2 separate regions of the Homo sapiens genome follow, and region 2 is reported to be linked to region 1. The links are microRNA targets in miRTarBase. Many come from high-throughput screens and were not tested one by one. Region 1 holds a microRNA gene; the other region holds the end of a gene's coding sequence.
What was found. The annotated mature microRNA hsa-miR-6807-5p reads GUGAGCCAGUGGAAUGGAGAGG and lies in region 1 at 1,821-1,842, opposite strand. An mRNA with a match to its seed (bases 2 to 7 or 8) in the 3' UTR can be bound and repressed. Matches are read on the target gene's strand: a 7mer-m8 pairs with bases 2 to 8, a 7mer-A1 pairs with bases 2 to 7 and ends in A, and an 8mer does both.

Region 2: the mRNA of UACA is a reported target of hsa-miR-6807-5p. Seed matches in the 3' UTR shown: 7mer-m8 at 1,997-2,003.

Annotation. Positions count from the first base shown.
Region 1 is chr19:58,548,127-58,552,126 of GRCh38, reverse strand. It overlaps MIR6807 (microRNA 6807), which reads right to left and starts at 1,842; the gene lies at 1,751-1,842. It overlaps TRIM28 (tripartite motif containing 28), which reads right to left. Exons shown (of 17, transcript NM_005762.3): 7 at 3,947-4,000; 8 at 3,719-3,833; 9 at 3,535-3,641; 10 at 3,351-3,387; 11 at 3,217-3,265; 12 at 2,887-3,139; 13 at 2,477-2,796; 14 at 2,267-2,390; 15 at 2,092-2,178; 16 at 1,843-1,980; 17 at 1,412-1,750. The coding sequence ends at 1,574. CHMP2A (charged multivesicular body protein 2A) reads left to right here. Exons shown (of 6, transcript NM_014453.4): 4 at 1-72; 5 at 160-221; 6 at 351-561. The coding sequence ends at 478.
Region 2 is chr15:70,653,513-70,657,778 of GRCh38, forward strand. It overlaps UACA (uveal autoantigen with coiled-coil domains and ankyrin repeats), which reads right to left. Exons shown (of 19, transcript NM_018003.4): 19 at 1,042-3,615. The coding sequence ends at 3,544. Among named protein-coding and RNA genes, the nearest start is that of SALRNA2, 20 kb to the left of the region's middle.

The sequences.
Region 1 (4,000 bases):
GGATATGAAGGAGGAGATGATGAATGATGCCATTGATGATGCCATGGGTGATGAGGAAGATGAAGAGGAGAGGTATGGGGAAACTGGATGGGAGGGTGGAGATGTTTGCCTGGCCCTCACGGAGTGCATAGCCCTCACTGAGTTCTCTCTCTTCCCTAGTGATGCTGTGGTGTCCCAGGTTCTGGATGAGCTGGGACTTAGCCTAACAGATGAGCTGTCGAGTGAGTGCTCCAAATCCTGGACCCCATTTCCCACCCAAGGCCCAGCCACAGCTCCAAGCCCTCCCTTTCCCTGCATTACTCCCCTCCGCTGCCTGACCCCACCTGCTCAAACCCCCACTTTCTCTGCAGACCTCCCCTCAACTGGGGGCTCGCTTAGTGTGGCTGCTGGTGGGAAAAAAGCAGAGGCCGCAGCCTCAGCCCTAGCTGATGCTGATGCAGACCTGGAGGAACGGCTTAAGAACCTGCGGAGGGACTGAGTGCCCCTGCCACTCCGAGATAACCAGTGGATGCCCAGGATCTTTTACCACAACCCCTCTGTAATAAAAGAGATTTGACACTAGTCTCCAGGCCCATGTGACTTTTGGCCTGATGTGGGACCAGACTGGGGTCCCTGGGAGGATGGGCATCACTAAGGCAAGAGGCACTTGGTACTAAGCTAAGGGTGGGGGTTTGGGGCAGGGGTGAACAAGCAAAGTCCACCTGGGATTTTCAGGAGCTGGGAGCTTCAGGTGAGCTGTGGGCCCTTCTCCATCACCTCTCCCAAGATACTGGACTGCCCAAACACCCTGGTAGGATCTTGAGAGTCCAGGCCTCATCTGCCAGGCTGTAGTGTCCAACACTGTTTGGTCCAGTGATGGTTTAATGACAACACTCAAGGACAGTCCAGACCAACCAATAGAGGCAAGGGGGTGGCCTTGGGATTCACACAGGCTCGACTGTAGAGTAACTAAATCATAACACAGAGATGAATGATAATGTTAAGTGGACTCAGCAAAGGGAGACAGGGAAAAAAACCACATCTGGAAGGTCTCAGTTCACTGTGGGACCTTCTGAAGATGAGAAACAGCTACAGCACCAAAATTTAGGAAGCATTCAGTAGAGTGGCTGTGCTACACCTGGGGCTAACCCTGCCTACACAGGGATGTAGGTCACACCTACCCAGTATCCCACAGGGTACCCAACAAGCCTCTAGTGTGTACATCCTTTGCCCTGGGTGACCCTCCCCATACCCAGAAAGGGCAAGGAGGCAGTCTTCCCCACTCCCTAGGCATCCATACACATGGGCTTCGATAGGTGGGGGACAAGACCCCCCTCCCTTGTGCCACCAGTGCTTGATAAGGCTGACTAGTAGATACAGTCAATAAACCAGGCCCCAGGACCACAGTCCCCCAACCAGCCAACGCCTGAGGAACTGGTGAAGTTTTTATTAAATCCACAGAAGTAAAAACCATATCGTGAGGAACTGGGGGATGGGGCCACCAGGGAGTGGGAGTCAGGCCACCAGGGGAGTGGGGATGGGGTGACAGGACAGAGAACAGAGCCAGGCTGGGCTGGCCATGGGGGCTCCAGCCTCAGGGGCCATCACCAGGGCCACCAGACAGCTCCTGGGAACTCAGGCCAGCACCAGGCAGGCTCATCGGCGGGGGCTCCACCAGCACAGCAGAGAACTTGGTGTCACCGAAGGCCTCGTTCATGCGCGTCTCGAAGAAGCGCTGCAGGCCGATGATGGACTGCACGTCTGCCTTGTCCTGGGCCAAGCAGGAATGCAGTGGATGAATGGGTCCTAGTTCTTTCCTTCACATCTCCCCCTGCCCACAGCCTCTCCATTCCACTGGCTCACCTCAGTTAACTTGTTGAATTGCTTGAACATGCGGCCCACATCCTGGGCAAACTCCTGTGGGGAGCTGTAGGGAGGTGACAACTTCTCCTGGAGGCGGGCACGGATCAGGGTCAGATCCAGGGTGCCACCGGGCTGGTCCTGCAGGCAGAGATCACACATACACACACAAAGACACACATATACATGCACAGGTTGAGGGCGAGACCCAGCAGCCACCACCCCCTTCCCCTTTCCCATCCTAGGACTCACCAGGGAGAAGGTGGAGTCGGTAGCCAGCTGATGCAGGGGGCGGCAGGGTTCGTGACAGAATAGGGCCAGCAGTACACGCTCACATTTCTACAAACATTGTAAGGGATGTCACAGCTCTGGGCAGCACCTATAAAGCCTCTCTGGGCAACCCCACCTAAGTAACCCCAGCCCTCACCCGCTGGTTGGCTGGTGAGAGCTTGGCCACCACGCCAGTGCTGTCTGCACCATCCAGGCTGAGGCTGCCATCCTCCTCCTTCAGGTCAGGGAGCACATGGCAGAGTGAGCAGCTCCACTCCTCCCTAGGGTGAAGAAAATAAGGGTCTGCACATGATCCTGTCCAGACAGCCCAACACCCAGACTTGACCCCCACCAGCCTCACACTCACCCTGGTACATCCTGCAGGGCCGGCAGGTGACAGTCCAGGTGGAAACAAAACTCACACTGGTTGCACATAACCAGATCGCCTGGCTTCTGGCAGACACGGCAAATGGTGGCACTGTCATCCAGGGTTCCCGGGCCACCACCTGGGGCTGAGGTACCCTCAGGAGCCACCACCTCCAGCCCTGAGCTGGTGCTGCCACTAGGTGAGGCCAGGCGGGGACCCTCAGCACCAGGACCCTCCGCAAGAGCCATAAGCACAGGTTTGGTCTCAGGGCCCTCAGTGGCAGTAGGAGGGGCTCCAATGGCAGCCTCCGTCTCCTCCTCCTGCAAGGTGGTGATGAGGGGTGTTCAACAGGGTCCAGACCTGGACTACAGGCTTCATCCTACAGCTATAGTTCCTTGGGACAGGCTTACCTTGACAATGGCCATGCCAGCCAGGGGTGGGGCACCAGGGGTTCCTGCAGGCGCAGTCCCTGGCTGGCCGGTAGCTGCAGCGGCAGCGCCACGTTCAATAACAATAAGGTTGTAGTCCTCAGTGGTACTGCCTGGGAAGACCTTGAAGACGGGTGGCTGGCTGTCAGCTGTGAGGTCCAGGTCCAGGCGTTCAAGGCTCACTCGTGGCACCTTGCGCATAAGGCCGCTCACCTCGCCCTCACCTGAGCGGGACCTGTAGATGCAGCAACCTGGCATGAGTACACCCCCACCCTCCATCCACCTCACCCCCAGGGGAGGTGCCATACTTACCGTTTCACACCTGACACATGGGGCTCTGCACTTGAGTAGGGATCATCTCCTTAGAAAATGGAGAAAGAAGACTGGCAGGTTGGGGTAGAAACAGCACTGGGGCCCTTCCCCACCCACTAGGCAGACCCACTCACCTGACCCAAAGCCATAGCCTTCCTGCACCTCCATGGGCTGTGAACAAAGCAGAACCCTCTGCCTCAGTGGGACAGGAACCCTACTGGACCCCATTCCCTGCCCACCCCCCCTGCCTGGGTCCTCTCTCCTGCTACTGGACCCCATTCCCTGCCCACCCCTTCCTGGGTCCTCTCTCCTGCTCACCTGGCTGCTGCCAGAGCCCTGCTTGCTCAGGGGCCCTGGGGCTCTTGGAGGGGCCATGGGTGCAGGGCCTGTTGAGTTAGTGCCAGGACGCTCTGCCACAATCTTGCCTGCAAAAAGAAGAGAGAAACGTAAGTAGGTGCAGCACGTGGGGTAATAACAGAGTGAGGTAAAGCTGGGGACCCACCAAAGGCCTCGGCACTCTTGGTCCAGGCATTGAGGTCCCACTGAAACTTCATCTCGCCATGTGGCTCCACGGGATCCACAATCATCTTGAGGGCCCGGTGCAGCTGGAAGTAGATCTGGTTGGGAGTGAAAGGGAGGAAAGAATGAGCACACCAACAACAAATAGGGATTTGAGGTATTGGGAACCACCTGCCTGGAACCCACCAGCCAGGAGCCCACCAGTACACACCAACTTCTTAGAAAGCAAAAGGGCTGTGTTGTTGTCACTCTCCAGAGCCCAAGA
Region 2 (4,266 bases), not on the chromosome of region 1:
ATGCCATCGCTGATACAGCTTGATCTTTAAAAAAAAAAAAAAAAAAAAAAAAATCTGTACATTCATTACTCACTTGAGCCCAAAGGTCAATATATTCAGTAATAATCAGAAACCATGCTAAGAAGCAGGTTAATATTTACCTGGAGAGGCTGGTCTAAAGAGTCCTGTTTCAAATAGCTAAGATCAAAACACGGGAAAGAACTGAATTTCCAGCAACAGTCTCAGGTTCAGTTTCCAGTTTAGCGGGGAACAACACTGAATGAAATGACAGTTGAAATGTCTATACTAATTTTCATTTCGTATTTTGTGCACAATCTATTTTATGGTGCAAATTCTGCCTTTACTTCTCCAGTGCTTTTTATCCTCCCTCTGAACTTATTCATAAAACTTAGGGGCCAAGGGTAAGATCTAGGTCAGCCACATCTTTCATGTTCATCACAGGCATTCTCTTTCAACCCGTATTTTGGTGCCAGAGGAGCTACCATTACTTTGGTGCACAGAACCAACAAGAAAAAAGATCGCAAGGTTGCAGAATCCAGTGATGAAAACAGAGGCAATAAGAAGTAACTGTCTTCTACCATGGTGAAGCAGATGTCAAAAGAAGCTTGTAACCACTGCTAGGGTCTGGCACTCCTGCAAGCAGGCACTGATGTATCTAGTCACCATGAACACCAAAAATTAACTAGAAACTCTTCCCTTTTTTACTTTGAAACGAGTCGGTCAAAGACATGAACATTCAGGTAGGGTAACAAGCACATGTGTGAGAATAGTTTTTAGGTCCTTCCTTGTCAGAGGAAAGCTGATAACACTGGAGAAAAAAAATGCTCATGTTCTAAAGCTACAAGATTTTTAAAGCAGCAATGAGCCAATGCATTTATAAGAAGAGTAGAAAATTGTAAACTATAAAATTTGGTTAGGGTCAAGAGAAAAGGTTCAACTAAAAAGCCATAAAAAAGACAAAGCTAAATTCATCTGGAATTCTAGAACAATGCTGATACAGTTAAGTGATTATAGTCACCATAATATTAAAGATTTAAGATGTTCAATGCATGAATATTTGATTTTATTTCAAAAGACAATTATTTATAACACTGACCCTCTATCAAAAAGAATATGCTTTTCTGATGGGGAAGTGACAAAAAAAAAAAACTACACAGAACAAGAGTAATAAAGTTCTCAAGTAAGGATTGCACTCCAATAGGAATTGAGTGATTCTCTCAGAGAGCACTCATTACATCTTAGACAACGTCACTCTTCTTTCCTCTTGGCCATATGTTCAGGTCTCATAGTCTTTCTGAACACAGAATGGCAGTGGCCAGCATTGTCCATTATCTATGTTCCGCTTGTTTACTAATTAAAAAGCTTTGGTCTTCAGTGTTGTAAACGCAATTTCTGCCTTCGATATCAAAAGGTGAGTGAATGAGACAAGATTAGTTGAAGGAAGTACTTGATATTTTACTCCAGATAGCTGAATGAAAATGGGTATTCTCCCTTGTACTTTGGAGTCCATCGTTTCCTACTCCCAATGCTCTCACAGACAGTAAATAAAATAGTTTAACTCGCAAATCTTTTACAAGGATGTTCAAAACAATATTCTAGAGAAAACTTTATTGATGGTTGAAAACAAAATAAAATACACATAAGGTTCCCTTCCCATCTCTAATATGGAAAATAAAACACTTAATATGAATACTCAGTTTTAAACTTTGCTCTAAGTTTTATTTTATTTTATTTTGAGATGGAGTCTTGCTATTGCCCAAGCTGGAGTGCAGTGGCGAGATCTTGGCTCACTGCAACCTCCGCCTCCCAGGTTCAAGCGATTCTCCTGTCTCAGCCTCCCGAGTACCTGGGACTACAGGCACCTGCCACCATGCAGGGCTAATTTTTGTATTTTTAGTAGAGATGGGGCTTCACCATATTGGTAAGGCTGGTCTCGAACTTCTGACCTCAGGTGATCTACCTCCCTCAGCCTCCCAAAGTGCTGGGATTACAGGCATGAGCCACCACCCCCGGCAACTTTTTTAATTTATATTTTATTTTTTATTGAAATAGGTGGCCCAAAACTTGTGAAACAGAACTCATGCTGAAGGACGACATTAATCATAATAATTAAAGAGACAGATATTGCTTATGTAAACCGTATAAAGAATTAAAAACAAATCCAATTCTGACTTTCAATGTTGTTTCAACACCGAAAAAATATGATGGCTTATTCTTTGGTATGAGAAGTCATTTTGATGGTATTTTTACCCTATTAAACAAAAATGGGATTTAAAAATCTGGTTCGGGATGTTCAAAGATAATTGCTAAGGCAAATTTTGCAATTTGAGAAAACCTAACTGTAATGATCCATTTATTCAGTTATTTGTTAATACTCAAATTAGTAATTTTCACTCTGAATGGTAAATAAAATGTTAATAAAAAATAACAAGACATATAAACTTTCCCTAATGAGATGCAGTTAATAAAAACGGTTGTTTACTTCAGAGTATTTACTATAAACATGTCCACTTATGTTATTTTATTGCTATCTATATACTCTTTCAGTTTACTGTATTACTGTACTTTTCTCTAAAACTTTAAAAATCTGTTATCTAAAATCAATTCTCTAATGCTAATTTTGCAGGAAAACTGTATTTCACATTATTAATCTCATTAATATAACTTTCCTATAAATAAGCATGAAACATTTGGAGGATGCATATATAATGAGTGCTTGGTTACTATAGTAGCGAATGTCAAACTAATTGCTAAAAAAAGTCTAAAGGTTTTCACACTTTGAAAAATCTAGTATATCATCTATCATTATTCTCCAATATTGTGGCAAGAATAGTCACCGCAAGTAAAAATTAAGATACTGTTGTAGAGATTAAGGCAATTTTATTATAAATTCCTGATATATTCCACCCCTGCCTGTTCTTAATCTAAATGTAATTTAGCACTGCAAACCATTTATGAAAATAAATTTATTTTAAAAGGCATAAAAGTTATTAGTGTAAAAAGAAAAAATATCTATACCTACAAAAAAGGCCAAAGACACTAATGAAGTTACCTCAGTAAAGATACTGTAACATGTAACTTGGCCAGCCAAGTTACAACACATTCCTCACAACTGTATTATGTCTCAAGGTTCTGAGGATCTGAAAGGTCTTTTGATCCACCTAAAAGTGGCCACCAACCAAATTAATTTCTCTGAAAGACATCTTTAAGCAATTATTTCAGCCTAACCTCGCTTCATATGGACTCACTCAGATGGCTCATGTTTTATTAGGGACTTGAAGGTTTAAAAATATGTAGTCAATCCAGGGCAAAGTTATGTTGTTTGCCTATTTGTAAAATTAACACATACAGAAAATAAGATTCAAACTGATATTGAAAAAGACTAACATATTCATCTAATTTTAAAAAAAAACCTACCAATAGAACAAAATATATTTTATTTTAATTATACCAGCACAGTAAGGCCCAGAAAGACCATGGAGTTGCACAAAGAATGTTCAGCACCAGCAAGATAAAACAGATACTGGCAGTCAGTGCTAACGGCTAGCACACAAGCCCCTGCCGCATTTGTATGATCTGGAGCAGAGCCTCCTGAACATCTTCATCCATGTGACCCTTCGGAGAAAGAAGAAAGAGGAGCATTATTTTATGTCATCTTTGTTTACATAAGAATTCTAAAGATAAAGCTTTTACAGAGCATAACTAGTCATTGATTCATCAAATGCTAAATCCTCATCATTGTGATTTCTAAAGGAATTACTGGAAAAGGGAGTACAGCCCTATCATGAAAATAAGATCAATTAATAAGGAGTGCACGGCCGGGCGTGGTGGCTCACGCCTGCAATCCCAGCACTTTGGGAGGCTGAGGTGGGTGGATCATTTGAGGTCAGGAGTTCGAGACCAGCCTGGCCAACATGGCGAAACCCCATCTCTGGTAAAAATATAAAAATTAGACGGGTGTAATCCCAGCTACTCGGGAGGCTGAGACAGGAGAATCGCTGGAACCTGGGAGGCAGAGGTTGCAGCGAACCAAGATTGTGGCACTGCACTCCAGCCTGGGTGACATGGCGAGACCCCATCTGAAAAAACAAAAAGACTAGTGCACAACAGCTGCTCTAACTTCCATTACCAGAAAACAAATGGATAAACCTCCCTCTTTCTCTTTTTTAATAACAGCCTTGGATGATAGGGGCAGCATAAGTTATAAATGAACAAAGTAAACTACAAGGAAATCTGTTGTTGTTGCTGCTGAGGTTTTTTGTTTGT